Linked DNA regions of Homo sapiens: region 2 is linked to region 1. The links come from fine-mapping of genetic effects on gene expression. A gene starts in region 1. The other region holds a variant in brackets. All regions are shown on one strand. Distances are from middle to middle. Region 1 holds the start of GLIPR2 (GLI pathogenesis related 2). Region 2 overlaps GLIPR2 (GLI pathogenesis related 2).

The links. PIP is the estimated chance that this variant, and not a neighbour inherited with it, causes the effect. A credible set is the group of variants that fine-mapping cannot tell apart.
Region 2: its variant is the best candidate, but not a certain one, in a credible set for the expression of GLIPR2 in whole blood (INTERVAL, PIP 0.74).

The regions. Positions count from the first base shown.
Region 1 is chr9:36,135,316-36,138,219 of GRCh38, forward strand. It overlaps GLIPR2 (GLI pathogenesis related 2), which reads left to right and starts at 1,418. Exons shown (of 5, transcript NM_022343.4): 1 at 1,418-1,476. The coding sequence starts at 1,464. RefSeq lists silencers at 1,070-1,639, 1,670-1,719.
Region 2 is chr9:36,155,415-36,158,318 of GRCh38, forward strand. The region is part of intron 4 of GLIPR2 (GLI pathogenesis related 2); the gene reads left to right. Among named protein-coding and RNA genes, the nearest start is that of CCIN, 13 kb to the right of the region's middle. The variant C/A (reference allele first, on the strand shown) is at 1,828.

The DNA.
Region 1 (2,904 bases):
CTCCTGGGCTCAAGAATCCTCCCACCTCCGCCTCCTGAAGTGCTGGGATTACAGGCGTGAGCCACCGCACCCAGCCCCAGGAGTCCCTTTTGAATCAGGGTTGGGCACCAATTTGACCCATACTGAATACTTTAGGTGACTGTAACACAATGGTAAAAATTTGCATATATAAACAGATGTAAACATAGAAACATAGTAAAAATATGGTATCATAATCTCTTGGGACTACCACAGTATATGTGGTCTGGCATTGACTGAAATGTCATTACTCATGACGGTACTAAAATACAGTAGGTGTATTTGCCTGACATGGGGAAAGGAATAGAGAGCACAGTGCCCAGCCATCGCCCTGCGGGACATTCGTAAGCCGTTGGTATTACAAATTCTAGCCTTATCATCAGTGGGTCAGCTCACTTCAGTGCCCATTCATTGAAAAGCCTTAAAATTCGCTTCCTTCATTTGGGGTGTACTGAGCCCCTTCCCCAGAAAGGAGCGCTTGCGGGAAGTCTGGCACAGGTGACTAGGGCTGTGCGGTCAAGTAAGTGCACTTCTCCCACGGGGCAGGGGCCATGGGTGGGACCACATCTCCCCAGTACCTGGTGTGTGCTGCTCCCAGGGTCAGGGCACCTGGCAGTTGGAAAGACCGGCCGACCCCGAGGGATGGGCAGCACTGGAATGGTGGCTCCAGGGCCAGCACTCCCGGAGGAGGGACCGCCTGAGGAAAGGCAGGGAGGTGGGAAATCCCAGAACATGTTTGGGGAATGACAAGACATCTAGTTTGACTGGAGTATGGGGAAAAGGTGGGGCGTTGGGGAGACAGGTCTGGGGCCAGACTGCAGGGGTGGGAATTGGCTTGGTCTGGGAGGCAATGAGGGGCGAGTGGACGGGTCAGAGGCGGCGGCGCTTCCACCCCGACTGGCATTAGAGGGCGTGTCCTAGGAGAGGAGCATCCCCCTCCCCGGACCAGCCGCCCTCCGGAGCCCAGAGTCACCGGAGATGGGGGCACACCCCGGGGCTGCGTGTGTCGTGTCAGGCCGCGGCAGGGAGAGGCCGTCCCCTGGTGGCGCCGGCCGGAACGCCCCTCGTGCCGCGACCGCGCGCCCCTCTGTCCTCGCCGCGCGTCGGCGCAGAGCAGCCACCCGGGGCCCAGCAGGCGCGGGCTTCCCCACGCGCCCCGGGAAGGGACAGCTCGGTGTGGGGTCCGGGAGGCTTGAGCCCCGCGGCCGCATCCGGGGAGCCCTCGGCAGTCGCGGAGCTGCTTCCCAGGGGTGAGCTCTCCGGGAGGCCCACGGGGTGGCCCCGGGCGCCTCCGCCCTCAGCTGTCGCTCCTTATAAGGCGGGGGCCGGGCGGCGCCGGAGGAGGGGCCGCGGCATCAGCCCGGTCCTGGGCTCTGGGGCGGCGCTGGGCCGGGCGAGCGCAGTGCAGCGCAGCCGCGGGGAGCGAGGAGCGCGCGGAGCCGGCCATGGGCAAGTCAGGTGAGCCCGCGGGCTCGCCCGCTGCGGAATGGTTCGGAACCCCGCGCTCCCGGACCTCGCCGTCTCCCTCGTCCGCCGCAAGCCAGGTCCTGGGGAGTGCGGGAGCCCGGGGTGCGGGTGGAGGGCGCGCGGGCGGAGCGCCCCGGCGCGGTTTCCGGGGAACCCGGGGGGAAGGCGAGCCCGAGGGAGGCCCCCGCCGGAGAGCCGGGGATCGCGCCAAGTTGGGCTTCCCGACCCTGAGGGGCTGCGCGCCGCGGCCCGCCAAGGCGTGGCTTCTGCTTTGTTTCAGGAGGCCAGACTTAGAGTTGGAAAAGTCACCAAAGTGTGACAACAGCTCTCGCTGCGAAGCAGTTTGCCCCGCTCGGCTGTCCCGAGGACAGCCCTGAGCATCCCCCTCATCCATTTGTTGTTCCTTCTCTCCTGAGCGCCCGCGCCGTGCCGGGCTCCCCCTGTGCTAGGCTCGGTCTGGCTCCCTTTCTCCTGGGGCACCCCATCCTCTCTACTGTGGCTGTCGGGATGAACTTTCTGCAGCGCAGCTCTCCTCCTGTCGCTCCCTAACACCTTCCTCACCATTGTCCTCAGAGTGAAAGGACACACTCCAGTCCTGCCTTCGGGCCCCTGGGAGTGGGTCCCTAGCCCTTACCTCCGCCCTACACTAGAGCTGTCCAGAAGCTGGTGCACAGGTCCCTTCCCCTAGGTTTCCTTGCCGGGCCTTCACCACCCCAACTCTCAGCCTGAAAATCCCATCCCTCTAGGCTCAGCTCCTGGGCTGGAGCCCATCTGTGATTCCCCCCGGGAGGGAGCGCCCAACCTGGTGTTTTCCTCGCTGCAGCCCTTCCTGTAGTGGGCCGGGGACAAGAGTTCAGCCATAGACCTGTTTCCCACCGGGTCCTCACCCCTGGCTGCCAGGGGCCGTGTTTATCTCAGCATTGCTTCTGCCTCACAGGAGGCTCTTAGAGAACAGCTGTTGAACAGGATTCAGAAGTCCTGCTTCATCCGGATTGTCCACTTCAGATGAGTAAGGCTAGGTCCCTTCTAGGATCTGTCCTCCAAGATCTGGACTCAGGAGATGCCAGCGCTGGGCGCAAGTGGCTTTCCCTGGCCTTGGTCCTAACCAGCCTTCCTAGGCTGTAGAGGCAGGTCTGGCTTTCAGCCCTGGCCCAGCCAATCACTGGCTGTGTGATACTGAGCAAGCCTCCTTCCCTCTGTTCCTCCCTGTCTGTACAATGAGGGTGGCCGTATGAGCCCTGGGGTTCTTCACAGTATGGAAAGGTGATATAATGGGTTGCCATTTAGTTAACAGGATGACAGATGGTGATGGAGCAAAAGTATGGCAGATGAGAGCGAGTCTTTCGAGATATCTGCTTGGGAAATCAACTCCTTTCTCTGTAGAAATTTGTGGAGAAAATCCACAAATTCCCTTAGGCT
Region 2 (2,904 bases), 20 kb after region 1:
TGAATCCTGTCTTTACCAAAAATACAAAAATTAGCCGGATGTGGTGGCGTGCATCTGTAATCCCAGCTACTCAGGAGGCTGAGGCAGGAGAATCACTTGAACCCAGGAGGCGGAGGTTGCAGTGACATGAGATCGTGCCACTGCACTCCAGGCTGGGCAACAGAGTGAGACTGTCTCAAAAAAAAAAAGTTTTAAATGGAGTTTAACTACAGGAGAAAAAATAGAATTTAATCTACAAACATTTATTTCAGTCCTTACCATACACAGGATGCAATGGGAAGGACCGACTTTGTCTCTTCCCTAAAGAACTAGAAGAGTGTGTACACCAGTCTCTTCCTCTCTCTCCTACTTTCTTTTTTTAATTTTTTAGTAAAATAGGCTGGGTGTGGTGGCTTATTCCTGTAACTCCAGTACTTTGGGAGGCCAAGGCAAGAGGATCCCTTCATCCAGGAGCTCCAGACCAGCCTGGACAACATGGCAAGACCCCATCTCTACAAAAACAATTAAAAACTAGGCTGGGCACGGCAGCTCACACCTGTAATCCCAGCACTTTGGGAGGCTGAGGTGGGCGGATCACCTGAGGTTGGGAGTTCGAGACCAGCCTGGCCAACATGGTGAAACCTTATCTCTACTAAAAATACAAAAATTAGCCAGGCATGGTGGCGCACGCCTGTAATCCCAGCTACTTGGGAGGCTGAGGCACAACAATCGCTTGAATCTGGGAGGCGAAGGTTTCAGTAAGCCAAGATTGCACCACTGCACTCCAGCCTGGGTGACAGAGCAAGACTCCATCTCAAAAAATTAAAAAATTAAAAAATTAAAAAACTAGCTGGGTGTAGTGGCACGTGCCTGTGGTCCTGGTTACAGGAGGCTGACGTGGGAGGATTGCTTGAGTCAAGGAGTTGGAGGTTGCAGTGAACCATGATTGCACCACGGCACTCCAGCCTGGACAACAGAGTGAAGCCATGTCTAAAAAAAAAAAAAAAAAAAAAAAAAAAGAAATTGTAGTAAAGCACATATAACTGAAAATTTACCATTTTAACCATTTTAGGTATACAGTTCAGTGGGATTAAACACATTTACACTGTTATGCAATCATCGCCACCATCCATCTCTAGAATTCTTTTCATCTTCACAGATTAAAACTCAGTACCCCTTAGACCAGGGGACCCCAACTCCTGGGCAGTGGACCTGTATGGGCCCATGGCCTGTTAAGAACTGGGCCGCACAGCAGGAGGTGAGCCTGGGTGAGTAAGATTACTGCCTGAGCTCCGCCTCCTGTCAGATCAGCAGTGGCGTTAGATTCTCATAGGAGCATGAACCCTATTATGAATTCCTCACGCAAGGGATCTAGGTTGCATGCTCCTTATGAAAATCTAATGCCTGATGATCTGAGGTGGAACAGTTTCATCCTGAAACCATCTCCACCCCACCCCAACCATTGTTCTACTTTTGGTTTTAACTATTCTAGCTACCTCATATAAATGGAATCATACAATATTTGCCCATTTGTGTCTGGCTTATTTCACTTAGCATCATGTTTTCAAGGTTTACCCTTATTAGAGCACGTGTCAGAATTCCTTTTTATTTTAATTTATTTTATTTTATTATATTTTATTTGAGACGGAGTCTCACACTGTTGCCCGGGCTGGAGTGCAATGGCGTGATCTTGGCTCACTGTAACCTCTGCCTCCCGAGTTCAAGCGATTCTCCTGCCTCAGCCTCCTGAGTAGCTGGGATTATAGGCACCCGCCATCATGCCCAGCTAATTTTTTTTTTTTTTTTTTGTATTTTTAGTAGAGATGGGGTTTCACTATGTTGGCCAGG[C/A]TGGTCTCGAACTCCTGACCTCTTGATCTGCCCACCTTGGCCTCTCAAAGTGCTGAGAATACAGGCATGATCCACCACACCCAGTCTCTTTTTTATTTTTATTTTTTTATTTTTTATTTTTTTGAGATGGAGTCTCATTCTGTCGCCCAGGCTGGAGTGCAGTGGTGTAGTCTTGGCTCACTGCAACCTCTGCCTCCCAGGTTCAAGCGACTCTCCTGCCTCAGCCTCCCAAGTAGCTGGGGTTACAGGCACCCACCACCATGACCAGCTAATTTTTATATTTTTAGTAGAGACGGGGTTTCACCACATTGGCCCGGCTAGTCTCAAACTCCTGACCCCAGGTGATCCACCCGCCTTAGCTTCCCAAAGTGCTAGGATTACAGGCATGAGCCACTACGCCCGGCCTCAGAATTTCTTTTTAAAGCTGAATAATATCTGTTAAACACACACACACACACACACACACACACACATATATATATACACATATATACATATATATCTCCCACATTTTGCTTATCCTTTCACTTGTTGATGGACACTTGGGCTGTGTGTCTTTGTGGGTTTTTTTTTTGTTTTTTGTTTTTTCGAGATGGAGTCTCACTCTGTTACCCAGGCTGGAGTGCAATGGCACAGTCTCGGCTCATTGCAACCTCTGCCTCCCAGGTTCAAGCAATTCTCTTTCCTCAGCCTCCCCAGTAGCTAGGATTACAGGCGTGTGCCACCACACCTGGCTAATTTTTCTATTTTTAGTAGAGACGGGGTTTCATCACATTGGCCAGGGTGGTCTTGAACTCCTGACCTCAAGTGATCCGCCCACCTCAACCTCCCAAAGTGCTGGGATTACAGGCGTGAGCCACTGCGCCCGACCGGGCTATGTGACTTTGGGCCAATCTTTCAACCTCTCTGCTAGGAGCATGGGCGTATAAATATCTGAATCCCTGCTTTCAGTACTTTTGGGTATATACCTAGAAGTGGAATTGCTGAGTCATTGCAATTCTGTTTAATTTTTTGAGGAACTGCCATACTGTCTTCCAGAGCAGCTGTGCCATTTTACATTCCCATCAGCAGTGCACA